Linked DNA regions of Homo sapiens: region 2 is linked to region 1. A link means that fine-mapping ties the variant in region 1 to the expression of a gene that starts in the linked region. Tissue or cell type: cerebellum. Region 1 holds a variant in brackets; the other region holds the start of a gene. All regions are shown on one strand. Distances are between the middles of the regions.

Region 1 (8,105 bases):
CTGTGAGATATGTTATTTCAACATTTTTAATATTTACCAAAACTTTGTGTCATTGGAAACTCTTCACTTACTTGCTGCAAAATTATATATAAGAAACTACCAAGTTAAAATGCTCGCATATTTTGAATGGAGGCATAAAAAACAAAACTATAAATGAATTGTGAAAGGTCCAAATTTATTTTTATGTCTAATACAATGCATGAATATTGCAAATGCATATAGTTTCAAACTATTATGTTTATATAGGAAAGATTCACATTTAAGTTCAAACATTCCCTTCTCTAAGGGTCTTTCCTGAGCACTCAATTTAAAATAGTGCATCCATTTATAATTTTCCAACTTAACATCTTACTTTAATATATTGACTGAATTTATCACTATAAAAAGTATTAATATGTTTATAATTCGTTGTCGTTTCTTCCCGAAAATGTAAGCCCAGTGAGACCAGAGTCTTGGCTGTAGCTTTCCTAGTCACATACTTGGCGCTCAGTAAATATGTGTGGAAGGAAGGAAGGAAAAAAAGAAAGGAGGGAGGGAAGAAGACAGGCTGGACAGATAGACGGATGGTTGAGTGGAAGGATGGATGGACGGATGGAATACTTCTCAGGTAAAACTTCTTGGTTAATGAGAATTTTTATCTCATTTCAATTTTTAGTTCAGAATATTTAAACTAAAATAAAATAAATAAAAACAGTAAAAATAAATAAGTAAATTTGGAGCCTCTCACTCATTGTTGAGTGTCATTTAAGCTCCTACCAACTATTCTCTCTGAAATCACCACTGGAAATTCTTTTTGTCCCAATCATTCTGAATGTCACTTTTCCTGGAGCAAATCTGAGATGCCCTAAAAGTCTGAACAACTGAAATAGGTGAGTTCCTTCTCTATTCCTAGGAAGAATACCAGCGCCTCAGACACATTTTCTTTGTCTTAAGTACAGTCATGTGTCAGTTAACGACAGGGATACCTCTGAGAAATGCATCACTAAGCAATTTTATCATTGCGTGAACATCATAGAGTGGAATTACACAAACCTAGATGGCAGAGCCTACCTCACACCTATGCTCTATGCTATAGCCTATTGCTCCTGGGCAACAAACCTGCACAACATGTTACTGTACTGAATACCTTAGGCAACTGTAACACAATAGCAAGTATTTGTGTATCTCAACATAGCTAAACATAGAAAAAGTACAGTAAAATTATTGTATAGAAGATAAGAAATGGTACACCTGTATAGGGCAGCTCCGTTATAATCTTTTGAGACCGCCGTTGTATATGTGGTCTGTCATTAACTGAAATGTGGTTATGTGGCCTATGCTTGTGCTAACATGTATCATTTTAAGAAACGACTACGTTATGAGTCACTCTTTACATAATTGTCAGTGTGAGAAGGATTTTCAGGGCCAGATTTCAGATTTGATGCTGTTAATCAGTTTCTCTGCAGCCACCAAAATGTCTGTGAGCTCATTTATGTCTGTGGTGGTGACGAATCTAACCTTACAGTTGTCACAATCAGACATTTTACCACCTCTCAAACCAAAATTTCCAAGAGGATCCCAAGGCCCTTTGCTAACTGCAAAATAAACAGACTCCCCTGCCCCCTTCTGCCCCAGCCCCGACCTCTCTCCCTTCCCAAGCAGATACTACCTGGGTGGTAAAAATCTTCTGTTTTCAGGTCTTTAGCAAGGGGAAGTGGGGGAGGAGGGAAGCTCTTTTGTGCATGTTTAGAGTTTGGCCAAGTGGGTAAGTGGGTATTAAGTGTAATTGTAGAGTTTTATGGAACTTAAGAAGTCCCGGATAACACATTTTAAATATCCCTTGCTACATCTGCAGAGTCTTGAATTAGTAGGTAGAAACCACAACATTATGAGATCCCACTGGGTGTCTCATGGCCCTTCAACCTCCCAGGGCCCTCCTGACAAAAGAGCTCAGTGTGGACTTTTGATCTGAGTTTAAGATCAGGTAAGCCCCAGCCCCAGCCCTACCCCTAACAACAGCCCCTGGGTTCTTTCACGAACACCTACAAGAGCTTTGCTGACCCCATCTCTGGCTGAATCTCAGTAGCCTCCCTATCAATTCTCAAAGAAGATGTGGAGCAAAAGTTAGATGAGAAGTCACCATAGAATGTACGGGATTGGTTGGGATTCTGCCTGTCCTATTTCTGAACCCAGCTTTCTTCAGAATGTGTGAGAAACTTCCAGTAGGAAAAGAATTAACTATTTAGTTAATGATGCCAGTACTGTAACTGGGTATGCAACCAAAAGAAAATTATGTTAGATTCCTCTCTACTTTGAAAATACGTGAAAAAAAGGAATGAAATTTCTTCAGGAAAATCTAGGTGAATTTATGCATATGCTAGAACATAAAAATTATTGAGAACATAAAATGAACTCAAGAAACCTTGAGTGGTAGAGACCTTTTTAGAGACAATCTTTTTAATCAACAACTAGAATCTATAAAAGAAAAGAAAGGCCGGGCACAGTGGCTCACACCTCTAATTCCAACACTTTAGGAGGCCAAGGCGGGTGGATCACTTGAGGTCAGGAGTTTGAGACCATCCTGGCCAACATGGTGAAACCCCATCTCTACTAAAAAATACAAAAATTAACCAGGCCTAGTGGCACATGCCTGTAATCCCAGCTACTCAGGAGGCTGAGGCAGGAGAATTGCTTGAACCCAGGTAGCAAAGGTTGCAGTGGGCCTGGATTGCGCCACTGCACTCCAGCCTGGGCAACAGAGTGAGACACCATCTCAAAAAAAAAAAACGTATTTGAATATATAAAAGTTAAAATACTTTCTGACAAAAATACCATAAACAAGGTCAAAAGACAAGCTTTGATCTTGAAAATTAATCTTTGCAACTCAAGAAAATCAGAGGTTGAAAATCTGTAATACAAATTTCAAAGAGCTCTTGCAACTTGAAAAAAAGAGGAGATACAACCCTGGGAAAACTGGTAAAGAATATGAAAAAGTTGGTCAGAGAAGAACAAATTCAAATGATTGATAAACCCATTAAAAAATGTCAACTTTTCCAGTGGTGAAGGAAATGAAAACTAAGGTAACAATGATATATCACCTTATAACGATCAAATTGCCAAAAATTGAAGAGTTATTTATTTTTGGAGGGGACATAAGTAAAAGGATGCTTTCATGCATTGTTGGTAGAAACATGCATGAAAGCAATTTTATAGCCTTTCAGGGGGGAATGCAATCCACAATATAAACTAAAATTTTTAAAACCCCTATACCCTTTAGCCCATAAAGTTATCTCATAGAAACAAAAGCACTAATATTCAGTACTTTTGTAATAACAGGTAATATTTATTGAGCCCTTATTATGGGCCAGGTATTTTTGCAAAGGCTCAACATGAATTACATAACCTAGTATAATCCTCTATTTTACAAATGAGGAAACTCATACCCATAGAGGTTTAAACTTGCCCAATACAAGAGCTAGTAAGTGACAGAGGTAGGGAGCAATCACATGCAGTCTGACTCTAGAGTGCAGACTTTTTTTTTTTTTAGACAGAGTCTTGCTCTGTCACCAGGCTGGAGTGCAATGGCACGATCTTGGCTCACTGCAACCTCCACCTTCCTGGTTCAAGCGATTCTCCTGCCTCAGCCTCCTGAGTAGCTGGGACTACAGGCGCCCACTATCACACCCGGCTAATTTTTGTATTTTTAGTAGAGACGGGGTTTCACTATTTTGGCCAGGCTGGTCTCAAACTCCTGACTTCATGATTGGCCCGTCTCGGCCTCCCAAAGTGCTGGGATTACAGGCGTGAGCCACCGCGCCTGGCCTAGTGCAGACTTTTAAAAGCTATGCTGGACTGCCGCACAAAACACCCAGGTGTGTTTATTTCAGCATTGTTTGTAAAGACACAAACCTAGAAGCAATGCAAATGTCCATCGGCAGGGGAATGGTTAAATGTATTACAGCAGATCCACACTGCACAGTCATATGAGGCATAAAAAAGACTGAATTAGAACCTTACCAGGTGATAGAGAAAGATTTCCTCAAGATATTGTTGAGAGAAGAAAAGCAGAAAAGCATGAAAAACGCAATTCAAAAACTGAAAAATAGTAACCCCAAGCCTGTGTGTATGTAGCTAGAGATATGTAAATATAAATATATTAGTATGTGATTATATGATTCAGATAAAAAATATGGAAGGGCACATTTTAGATTATCAATATGTGTCACAGGAGATGAGCCGAGGTAACAGGAGCCAGCCATGCCAGGAGAAGCCAAAGTCTATATAAAAATTACATCTGTGGGTAAAAAATAAATAAATCTCTTACAGCCAAGATGCCATTTGGTAAAAATGTCTTAGCTTAATTATTAGTGGTAAACAAATGTCTTAGATATGCATTCATCAATGCACTATTCTTATCACCTAAGGACTTGATGCTGGGTTCTACAAACTGTTCTACACATGAGCTCCTGGCATATTGTGAATGCCTCATGTATATGGTACAACTATGCTCACCCTACCCTGGGTCTCTTCCCTTCTTTATCTCTTTTTCCATTTATCCCCCCTTTACTCAGCACAGACCTCTTTACTAATTCCCTACTGTCTACGAAATGGAGTCTGGACTCCTCGGATTCTCAGGACAGCCAAAGCACGAGGACCACCTGCCTTGAGACACCATCTGCCTCTCCCGGGCAGCTCCTCCTCTGCCCTCCCCACGCTTCCTTAGGCTTTGCTCTGCTGCCCAT[A/C]TGTGCGCGATTGTTTCTTCTGTTCTTCTTCTCTCATTTACATGGGCGCAAATTTCCTACCCTGAAAATCCACTTAAAATACTGTGTAGTTCATTCATGATTTCTTCATGATTTCCTGCACCTTCTCAAGACAAATATGTTCATCTTCTCTTGAATTATTTTTTTATTATTATTATTCTACTTTAAGGTTTTTTTTAAAAAAAACACAAAGGTTTCCAAACCCTTTTAGCTGGAACCTTGTTCTCCAATCTAGAACAGACGAAAGTGAAGCCTTGCCTCTGGCAAGGAGGGGTGCCTGGTTCACTGAGCCCCTCAGGCTCTTCCTCCTCCCCATCTCTATGCTTCTGTGCAAAATAGCTTGAGAAAGCACTGCTCTAATCTACTGTCTGCGTCTCTCCTTCCATCCCTCCCTGGCCACTTTGTGTTAGCTTTTAAACTGGATCAGGGCAACATCTTATTGTTCAGGTTTGCCCTCTGCAGCCAGCGTGGTTTCTGGCATGGAGGCAGCACCCTTCAGGTCCTGAGGCAGGTGCCACACAGCAAAAGGCAAACCCAGGTTTCATGCCTGCTCCAACTCTCAGTAGAACCTGGGCAGCTTTCTTAACCTATCTGAGTCTCAGCCTCCTAGTTCACCAAAAGGACATAAGAGTGCCTGATGTGGTTTGACGGATGCGTCTCTCAGAATTCATATGTTGAAACTTAATCACCAACGTGATGATATTAAGAGGTGGGGCCTTTAAGAAGTGATTAAACGATGAGGGCAGAGTCATGAATGGGAGTAAGGCCCTTATAAAAGGCCTTGAGAGAGTGAGTTTGCCCACTAGGTACAGTAGCACCACCACGATCACCCCCAGCTGTCACAACCAAAAATGTTTCCAGACATTGCCACAATTCTCCTAGGAGGCAAAATCACTCTGTTGAGAATCACTGTTTTCATGATGGAAGACTGGAAAAAGAAAAGGTTAAGCAAAATTTTTGCAGGATTAAAAGTATTTCTGTAGGCCTAGAGTTTTAGGAAAACATTTTCAGCCTTGGAATACGTCATGGCTGCGGGTTGAATATATGTGTTTTTCCAAAATTCATAGGTTGAAACTTAACCCCCAAGGTGATGGTATTAAGAAGTCAGACCTTGGCTGGGCAAGGAAAGTCATGCCTGTAATCCCAGCACTTTGGGAGGCCAAGGCGGGTGGATCACCTGAAGTCAGGAGTTCAAGACCAGTCTGACAACATGGTGAAACCCCATCTCTACTAAAAATACAAAAATTAGCCAGGCGTGGTGGCACATGTCTGTAATCCCAGCTACTCAGGAAGGCTAAGGCAGGAGAATCGCTTGAACCTGGGAGGCAGAGGTTGCAGTGAGCCTAATTGCATTGCACTCCAGCCTGAGCAACAAAAGCAAAACTCCATCTCAAAAATAAACAACAACAGAAAAAGAAGTGAGGCGTTTGGGAAAGTGATTAAGTCATGAGGGCTCCACCTTTGTGAATGGGATCAGTCCCCCTATAAAAGAGGTTGAAGGGAGTGGCCTAGTCCCTTTTGCTCTTCCCATTCTGCCATTTGAGGATACCGCAAGGTGTCCATCTTAGAAGCAGAGAACAAGGCCTTACCAGACCCTGAATCTTTTGGCACCTTGATCTTGGATTTCTCAGCCTTCAGAGCTGTGAGAAATAAATTTCTATTATTTATAAATTACTCAAGCCATGGTATTTTGTTATAGCCACAGGAATGAACTAAGACACTCACATATTAGACTTCTCTGATTATTGGACCAGCATAACTGAACCACACACTTTAGTTTTCAAATGTTGGCAACTGAAGAACTTACTTTAAGTAATGACCTTCAAGTAATGACCAGGTGAGTCTCGGTGCAGTTAGTCCACTGAGTTCATGTCCTGATTCCCTGCTAGTCCATCCAGAAGAGAATCTCCCAGATGCTGTTATCATTTGCTTCCCAAGACAGTTGCCTCCTGGACTGAGTCAGAGGGAAAAGCTTAGATAGAAGCCACACCTCTGTCTCCAGCCATAAGCGGGCTGCTGGAAGGATTCCCACAGAGTTGCCATGGGCTCTTCATGAAGGCTGGAGGTTAGCTATGGCCCTGGCGTGCTCTCACCTGCCCCACAACAGCCACCTCACCCTCCAAGCAGGCCTGCAGCTGCGCAGGAGTTCTAGACACCATGCCTCAGTCCTCCCACAGGCCAAGAGGGAAAAATTACAAAGCAAACCACTGGTGGGGATGCCAGGGCCTACACCAAACCCCCTATTAGCTGTGGAGACAGGAGACTAGCCTGTGGCCAAACCCTGAACTCAGCCCACAAGAATGTGCACGGAGCACAGGGAATGACAGCAATGCTGGCCTTGGTATAAAAGCCAGGAGCAGGGAAATTTGATTGTGCCAGGAGGACAGGGAGCTGCAGAGAATCAAAACTCTGCTTCCCTAATATTTATTCCAAAAACAGCTCCGTGGTGGGGATGTTATTGCTGGCACTTCCGCCTACTCTTTGTACTGTGTGTTCTCTTTCCAAAGGTAGTTCTGCTTGTTTGTTTGTTTGTTTGTTTTGAGATGGAATTTCGCTCTTGTCCCCCAGGCTAGAGTGCAATGGTGCGATCTTGGCTCACTGCAACCTCCTCCTCCCAGGTTCAAGCAATTCTCCTGCCTCAGCCTCTCAAGTAGCTGGGATTACAGGTGTGTGCCACCAGGCCCGGCTAATTTTTGTGTTTTTAGTACATAAGGGGTTTCTCCATGTTGGCCGGGGGGGGTCTCGAACTCCTGACCTCAGTTGATTCACCTGCCTCGGCCTCCCAAAGTGCTGGGATTATAGTCATGAGCCGCCATGCCTGGCCTTGCTCGTATTTTTAAACACCAGCATCAAACAGCCCTGAAAACTGCTCTTTCTAGGAGCTTGGCTTTGTGGGGCCGCTAGAAGGATGCAAGGCCTTTGAGGAGACAATGTCAGAAGAGAGAGAAATCTTGAATTATAAGAGAGAGCAAAAAGTGGATGGAAGAAGAGCCCAGAGGAGGCAGGGAAAGACAATAGATAGCCCAAGTGAAGACATTAGCTTTGAAAGAGAGTCAGCCCCAGCAGGAGAATTGCTTGAACCCGGGAGGTGGAGGTTGCAGTGAGCAGAGATCTCGCCATTGCACTCCAGCCTGAGCAACAAGAGGGAAACGCCATCTCGAAAAAAAGAAAAGAGTCAGCCCCTTTTTCCTTGAGATCGAGGGAAATAAATGGCAAGTGTAGATTGCAGATGTACTTACTAATGAGAGAGGCGCCGAAAGCAAGAACCAGAGGGAGGGAGAGGCTGGTGATATGAGGGGGATTAGATAAAAAGAAGACCCCCCCAATTAGTGGGGTGTAAGGAGGCAAGGATGCATGTGCCTGCAG
Region 2 (8,105 bases), 410 kb before region 1:
TAAAACAAATCCCAGGTACACTTTAATACAAAGTGAAATTCAAAATTAAAATCAATACCTTTTACAATAGTACCAAAAAAATGAAACTCTTAGAATCTACATGGAAACTCTTAGAATCTGTGTAGAATTTGCATACTGAAAACTTCAACTACTGATGAAATAAATCAAAGGAAACCTAAACAAATGCAGAGAAATGCTAAGTTTGTGGGTTGAAAGGTATTCAGAAATTGGAAGATTGTTAAAATGTCAGTTCTTCTGATATTCATCTATAAATTTAACACAACTGCAATCAAAATCCCAGTGGGAATTTTTTTGTAGATATTGACAACCATTTCTAAATTCATATAAAAAGGCAAAGAAATGAAAATAGCCAAAATAATGTTTAAAAAGGACAGAATTGGAGGGTTCACACTACCTGATTTTAAGGCAGTATACATCTACAAAATAGTGTACTATTTGTAAAACAATAGAAAGACAGATCAGAGGCACAAAACAGAGAATATAGAAAGAGACCCCTACAAATCTAACCAAGCGATTATTGAAAAGTTGCGAAAGCGATTCAATCAAGAAAGGATCTTTTCAATAAGTGGTGCTAGAAGAATTGGACATCCCATGTGCAAAAACAAGCCAACAAATAAAAAAGTCACCATCCATAGCTCACACCTAAAAAATAATAAGAATTCAAAATGAACCAAATACTTAAGTGTAAAATGTAAAATCTTGAAACTTATCAGCAAAACACAACTCTTTGTAACCTTGGTTAGTCAAAAGAGTTCTTAGATATACCAAAAGCATGATCTCTGAAAGAAAAAGTTGATACATTGAACTCCATCAACTTTAAAGACATTTACTCTGTGACAGAAACTACTAAGAGAATGAAAAGACAAGCCACACATGGGGAGGAAATATTCAGAAAACTTATCTGACAAAGACATTGTATCTAGAATACAGAAAGAACTCTCAAAAATGAACAATATAAAAGCAAACAACCCACTTAAAAATGAGCAAAAATTTTGAGCACTTTACTACAAATGATAGACGGATGGAAGAGAAGCACAAAAGTAGATGCTCACCATCATTAGTCATTAGGAAAGTCCAAATGACAATCTTGTATTATTGGCTACAATTTGCTCCTGTGCAGAGACTATGTGAGATAGCTTCAACAGCTCGGTCTTTTTCCTCCCCTAGTTATAGTGCGTTCACTTCCGACATTATGTTGAAGGCCTATCCCCAAAGATAAAGCCCCGGATTGGTTCAAGTTATCGTTTTCTCAGCATTGTAGGGACCATTTGTGAATGGTGCTCTGTTTGCTAATCTTTATCTGCATGTGGCCTGAGATGAGCAGGTGAGCAGGCATGTCACCCCCTCCCTGGGTCCTCCTGGGCCTCGAGTTACAAAAGGTGGAAGATTCGGTTGCATGGGCATTATGATAATACAGGTGTTTGTATATGCATCTCAAAACCTTCAACATTCACTTTACGCCATTATATAAGGTTAGTATTAGGAGGGACGCACTGGGACTGTGACTTATTATTTATAACAGTATTTTGAGTACATTAGAAACTTAATAAATATGACTACTAGGATGGCTTTAAGATTCATGCCATGTCTTTTCCTTTCTCCACCAAATACTCTTCTCTTTAAGGTTAGGGCAGCTGACATCTGTAAACTCCAGATTCAAGGTCTTCTGCTTGAAACAAGACTTAAGGAAATTACAGAACTAACATAGCCTTTTTGCTTTCTTCTGTAAAATAGGATCATGCTACCCAGACTACAGGGGGACTGTTAGGAATAACAAACAAAACAGGCCAGGCATGGTGGTTCACGTCTGTAATCCTAGCACTTTGGGGGGCTGAGGCAGGAGGATTGCTTGAGCTCAGGAGTTCAAGACCAGCCTGGGCAACTTGGCAAAACCCCATCTCCACTAAAAATACAAAAAACAAATTAGCCAGGCATGGTGGCACACACCTGTACTCCCAGGTACTCGGGAGGCTGAGGGGGGAGAGTTGCTTGAGCCTGGGAGGCGGAGGTTGCAGTGAATGGAGATTGCACCACTATACTCCACCCTGGGCATTGGAGTGAGACCCCTCACAAAAAATAAAAATAATAAAAATAAAAGGGGACAATACACAGGAGTCTGTATATGCTGCCATTGCACCTGACATGTAGAAGCTGCTCTACAAGGCTTCTTTATCTACTCAGGATGTGAAACTTTGTGTACTGCTATTTTAATATCTTTTGTCTTCAGTATAAAAAAAGCAACTCCTCAGGGGAGGATAAAGCACACCACAAGGATTGCTACATCAATAACCTCTATGAGAGATGTGGACTTGTCAAGTCATCTCCATGATGGATAGAACAGAGAGCAAACATCTCTGAGCCAAGTTGATGCTGATTCACTGAAAATAATGAGGTGAACATCCTGGCAATTAGTTGAGGTAAAAAAATTATCCTTTATTGTGGTTTGGTGACATTGTGCTAATTTAGAAACCATGGATGCTGGTTTATGTGAAAGTTTTTGTTTTCTTTCAAGTCTCTGGTTGGAAACATCACATGGTTGGTTGCTGTTGCTGTTTACTGCCACAGCCTGTTCAAGTCTATTCTCGGAGAGTTTTCTTCATATAGGAGTTGGTACTAATCCAAGTGTAAAATCCGGAGAAATGTGTGCACAGCTTTCTGTGTGGATTCTTAGCTAAGGTTTGAAAATGGTCTGCTTTGAGCTCATCTGACCAGAAGATCTGACTGCTGTCAGGCAAAGAAAAGGGTCTGTCAGGAAAGGACTGGGCACCCCAAGTGGAATACGGAAAGAGAAGGGCTGTGCCTCCTTGCAGAAAAGAGCACAGCTGGTGAAGCTGCCTTCACATCGTCCAAAGTTTCCAGTTCTGGAAAGTTCCAGTTGTAAGAGTGAAATCAATGCCAAGAGGCAGGTCAGTGGAATGAGAGGCACTGAGAAACTAGCCACTGTGGGTGGAAGGGGAAGGAGATTTGGTTTTGACAAGTCCGTACTCAGGTCTTCAGTAAGGAGTTCTGAAGTCAGGGTGAAGCCTTTGTTTATTCTAGAGGAGGCGGAGTTTGGGGTCTGGGAAAGAAGATAACTTCTCAGAAAGTGAAAAAAAGCTCATGTAGAGGATGCTGGGCAAAATAATGGGAAGGAATAAATCAGCATTGTAGAGAATGTGGTTGGATCATAAAATCCCAGGCTATAGAGATTATGTGCTCAAAGCCTCTGCATTTTATGTGAACACACACAAACCAAATGTCGACCAGATGCACAAAAATGTGCATACATGGAGCAGCCAACCACCAATAGTAACCAGCATTTCACTTCTCTTTGCATCTCAGTTGGCTGTACCTGGAAGGGTCTAGACTTTGCCTCCTTCTCGTTCTAGCATTCTGACACTGTGTGCAGTGTAATAGAAAACGCGGTTTGGGAGCTAGGTTTGCCCAACAATAGATATTCTGGGGTGATTTTCATCCTTTGCATTTGTCATTACGATGTTTTGTGTGCTTGTGCAAATACAGGACGGTTCCTGAAATGTGTCTCTGAGCGTTCTTAACTGTGTGTAAGGTAAGCGAGGAAAGTGTCTAAGACAGAGGCCAAGAACACCTGTCACAGGGTACCCGCCTAGAGTGTCTGTACCGCATCCTTTCTGCTACACTGTTTGCACACACACAAAAGGGCCGAGGAGCCAGGGTTGGTGTTGGATATGCCCAGTACGCGTGCTGGGTGTTGGAAGGATGGGGCCGGCGGTAACAAGAATCGATATATATTTACCGCGGGGGCGGGGGTGGGGGTGCGCGGAGGCTGCAGGGCGGGGCAGCGCTAATGAGAGCAAGCCCGGCTTGTGGTTGGTTCTGGAGTCTGGTACCCACAGAGGAGCAGGCAGGGAGGGAGGGGATGCAAGCGGGAGGATAAAGCGATGAAGTGTGCTGCGTTACCGCGCATCAGGCGCTGTTGTTGGAGCCGGAACACCGTGCGACTCTGACCGAACCGGCCCCCTCCTCGCGCACACACTCGCCGAGCCGCGCGCGCCCCTCCGCCGTGACAGTGGCCGTGGCCTCCGCTCTCTCGGGGCACCCGGCAGCCAGAGCGCAGCGAGAGCGGGCGGTCGCCAGGGTCCCCTCCCCAGCCAGTCCCAGGCGCCCGGTGCACTATGCGGGGCACGTGCGCCCCCCAGCTCTAATCTGCGCGCTGACAGGAGCATGATCTGTGCCCAGGCCAGGGCTGCCAAGGTAAGCGGGCGTAGCGCGGGGACACTGTCTGCCGCCCCTTCCCCCCCGCCCTTCTCTGGGCGGCTTCCCCGCCGCACGCGAGGCCCCGGCAGCGCCCTCCCTTCTCGGGGCCGAGATCCACCCTCCTCCCCACCCTCTCGCTTCTCCCGCGAGGTTCAATTGTCAGCCTGGGTCGCGCCGCCGCCCGGTCCGGGCCGGCATCCCCGGGTGGCGACCCCGGCTTGGGTACTGCAGGCGCACCCGGCCCTCCTGCGGGGTACGGAGAGAAACAAAGAAGCCCCCAAGCGGGTTCGCAGCGCCTCCCCCGCCCCTCAGCGCCCTCCCAGTGGCGAGGAGGTGTCAGGGGAGGGGGCGGAGAGACCTACGTAATCCCCCTTCCCAGCCCACACCCACCCCTTGTGAACCAAAGCTCTGGATTTGCGCTTCGCCTTGGGCTCGCTTTTGAACAATTGTGTCCCATGCAATGCCCGTGGTTAGCCCAGAGAGCGCCCAGAGCCTCCGCACGGGCTCGCCGGTGCTCGCTCGAGGGGCGCGTGGCCAGGTCCGGCCCTTGCTCCCATGGACGGGTGCAGGAGGGGAGGAGGCGCTGTGTGGGTGCTCCCCCAGCGCCTCCCTGTTACCGGCCGGCTGCGCCGCTCAGCCGGGCCTGCCACCTGAGTTTTAGCGGGAGCAGTCATGTCGCCTACCGTATTGCGACTTGCAGACAGGCAGGGAGGGAGCTGCCGGGGCGGGGAGGGGGGGGGAATGCGTCCGGTCCATTTTTGGCTGGAGGTGCGCTTCCTGCTACCCCCACGTTCCCGGGCGGTGACAATGCAGCAAAATCCGAGGGCTCAAACAATGTGGCCCCTCCATCCCCGGCTCCAGGGCATTCTGATTGCTCTGCCGCTTTGACGTCCCGGCCACTTGGCTGATTTTCAGAGCCATGATGCGCGGTGTCTCTGTCTTGCACACAGAGGCTGGGCACCATAACTTCTTCCCTGCCGAATTTCAGCGCGTAGGGGGAGCTGGCAGGGACACAGGCTGCAGAGATGCCCGGCTTCCTGTGGTTCCGGGCACAGCGCGCCTCAGTCTGCATTGGGCTGACACCAGAGAGCATGTGGGGATTTTCCTAGTTGCCGAAGAAGATATTATTTGACGTTGCTGTAGTTTTGTGCTTACTTCTCTTGGAATCTGCAGTGGTGCAATTCTCCCCTTGTTTTCCCCCCTTCTCTTTGAAAAGATATCAATGCTATGTTCAGCAGAAACGGATACAGCAAGAGCAGCATAGTTCAAAAATTGAGGGAGGCATCTTCTCTCTTTTCCTGGGATTTAAACGCGATTTAGGAGGGCAGATGCCCTACCCGAAAAGGCCAACCGTTAAAGACCCCGGCAGTGTTGTGGTCCAAGGCGTCTCAAAGCAGGTGGCCAGATCTGCGTTTCTCATCAGCAGACTCACTCCGGCTGTGGCTATTACGGTAATTCATTCTAGATTGGGGATTCATTTAAAAATGTGTGTTTTCCACTAAGAAGGGATTAGAGTCCACATGCCCACCCTGGTATGAATGTGTGTGCCTGTTTGGTAGAGAGATAGATTGTGGTAGAATTCCCTGTTGGTAGAATTCCCTGTTGCCTGTTCCCTCCGCTTGCTGCTTCCTCTGGAATGTGGCATTGGAAAAACAAAGCACTATTTTAATTCCTAGACCTCCAGGCAAATTGGCCGTTCTAGTGTTTTATTTAATAATCCACGTTCTGACTAATTCCACACTATAATCCCAGTCTAGTGCAGTTGGCTGCTTTGTGGAATGACAGTTCTCTTTTTTTTTGGAGTAGTTTTTTCATGAAGGCAAATTGCCTAAGTTTGTTTAGATTGTGACATTATTGACTTGATAGGGAGGTCACATCCGGAGCTGGAACAGCCCATCAATGTATCAATACAGAGGGACTGCAGCTCTGTTATTTGTGTATATAGCATCATTTGACTTGATTCCTTTTACACTCTGGCTTTTAAAGATGGATGTATTACAAGATCACTTTGAGCTTTACCTTCTATTATGCTTCCATCTGATATGATTGTTAACAAAAGAAATATTAAAAGGCCAGATGTGATATGGAAAGACAAGCCTGAGTCTCATTCCTCATGGTAAAGGAAGTTGGACTGGCTGGTTTCTATCGTTCTTTCTAGTTCCAGCATTCTGTGGTAACTGACAGAGGAGTAAGAAAAGTTACCCAGTGTTGGAAAGGCAAATAATTATAACGTGAACCATGCAAGCAAACCAAGGATTGACTGTAGAATCTGCGGCTTATTTTTATACCTTGCAGCTTTTAAAACCCAAGCGTCTGCATTTTCCCCATAAGTGAAATTACTCACCAACTCAAACAGGTCTTTTTTTTTTTTTTTTGTCCACTATAGCAAAACATTTGGTGGAGGGTTGGGGAAAAGAGAAGAAGATTGAATTAATTGGATAACAGGTGTTCTCCTTTTGTGGAGTTATTCATTCCAACCCCATCTTAGATAATTGAGAATTCACTTTTTCCAATCATTGGTTTTTGTTTGTTTCTAATGAGACACTCTAGATAGCTGTTTCATCCTATGCAGTAATTGACAATGGCATGAGACTTACTTTCTCTGATGTAATTTGGTGTTGCTCTCAAAACTTGCTAGCGCTGTTGCTTGTCACAAAAATGGGTGAAGCAATGATTGGTCTAAATAGGCAGGCAGGCAGTGTTTTCATGCGCTATGGTAATTTTTATAATTTAGGTATAGTCAAGGTATTTGTTGATTCATGCTTAGCCACACAATTTTCCGTAGTTGTGCACTCATTTGTTTTAAGTTACAATCAAAATAATATCCTGAAATTACAGTCCCTGCAAGGCATAATTAACCACTTCTTCTCCTGTTTTCCCATAGCCTTTTTGTTCATAGAGCTAAGATAGCACTTACAATATTGCAGTTATCTGAGTTGTAAATGTGCCACAGTCTCCTTATCTTAAATATGGGATGAGCTTCTTCAGAACAAGGACATGTTTATATTCATCTCTCCAGCACCTAGCAGTTTGCCTGGTACATCATGTGTTCTCAGAAATGTTTATTGAGTGGATTTCAGGTCATAAAAATGCCCTCTAATTGTATAGGCAGGAGGTAGGTAGGAATCCTTCACTTTGTGAGTCAGCTGGGGGAATCAGAGAGGTTATGTAAGATGCTTAAGGGGGAACCGAGAGCCAGGACTCAAATCCAGGCCTTCCACCACCCACCCTCAGTAAACAAAAAAACACGTAGAGAATGAGTTCAAATGCTGTAGGTTTTGGTTATTTATTTTTTTCCTTGAATGATCTGGATTATCCATTTTGACAAAATTTATCTGATAACTGCTCTGTTCTGTCTTGCTCTGGCCTTAGAAGGAAACATGGCCCAAGCACTTTAACCTCTAATCCACACTTAAACAGAAGACGTGAGCACCCTTCTGCCCACTTTCTCTCTAAGTCCTGGTTCTATCAACCAGAGCTTGCTAGGATGATGGACACGTCTAGGGAATGTCTACTCATTATTTGCTCAAGCAACATTGAACCACTGTAAGTGCTTCTGAAATGACCTACAGTTAGACCAGAGACAACCATCCTTCCTGGGCCAGCCAAGCTTGACTGAGTCTCCCAATGGCAGGTTTCTAGACTAACAGGTGTGACTTACAGACATCAAGACACCTGCTTCTCTCCCATTTACCTGCTTCCTTTTCCATCCTAAAAAACAGGACAAGCTACATTAGGAAACCAGGAAGTTGCAATACCCACATGTCCTCTCTGTAAAACAGCCGTTGGCACATTTGATGTTCACGGACTTTTAGAGAAAACAGTATGAAATGCTCTGTGGGGTTTTCTTCAGGTCACTTTTCCTCTTT

Alleles and levels. Alleles are on the strand shown, and positions count from the first base shown. SD is a standard deviation of normalised expression in the study named.
For the expression in cerebellum of the gene that starts at base 3,943 in region 2, allele A in region 1 goes with a lower level than allele C (small effect, 0.29 SD a copy in GTEx).

The links. PIP is the estimated chance that this variant, and not a neighbour inherited with it, causes the effect.
Region 2: HECW1 starts here. The variant in region 1 is fine-mapped to the expression of HECW1 in cerebellum (GTEx, PIP above 0.99).

Annotation. Positions count from the first base shown.
Region 1 is chr7:43,515,742-43,523,846 of GRCh38, forward strand. All of the region lies in intron 24 of HECW1 (HECT, C2 and WW domain containing E3 ubiquitin protein ligase 1), which reads left to right. It overlaps LUARIS (lncRNA upregulator of antiviral response interferon signaling), which reads right to left and starts at 6,801. Exons shown (of 3, transcript NR_038276.1): 1 at 6,547-6,801. The variant A/C (reference allele first, on the strand shown) is at 4,722.
Region 2 is chr7:43,108,705-43,116,809 of GRCh38, forward strand. HECW1 (HECT, C2 and WW domain containing E3 ubiquitin protein ligase 1) reads left to right here and starts at 3,943. Exons shown (of 30, transcript NM_015052.5): 1 at 3,943-4,233; 2 at 5,453-5,687.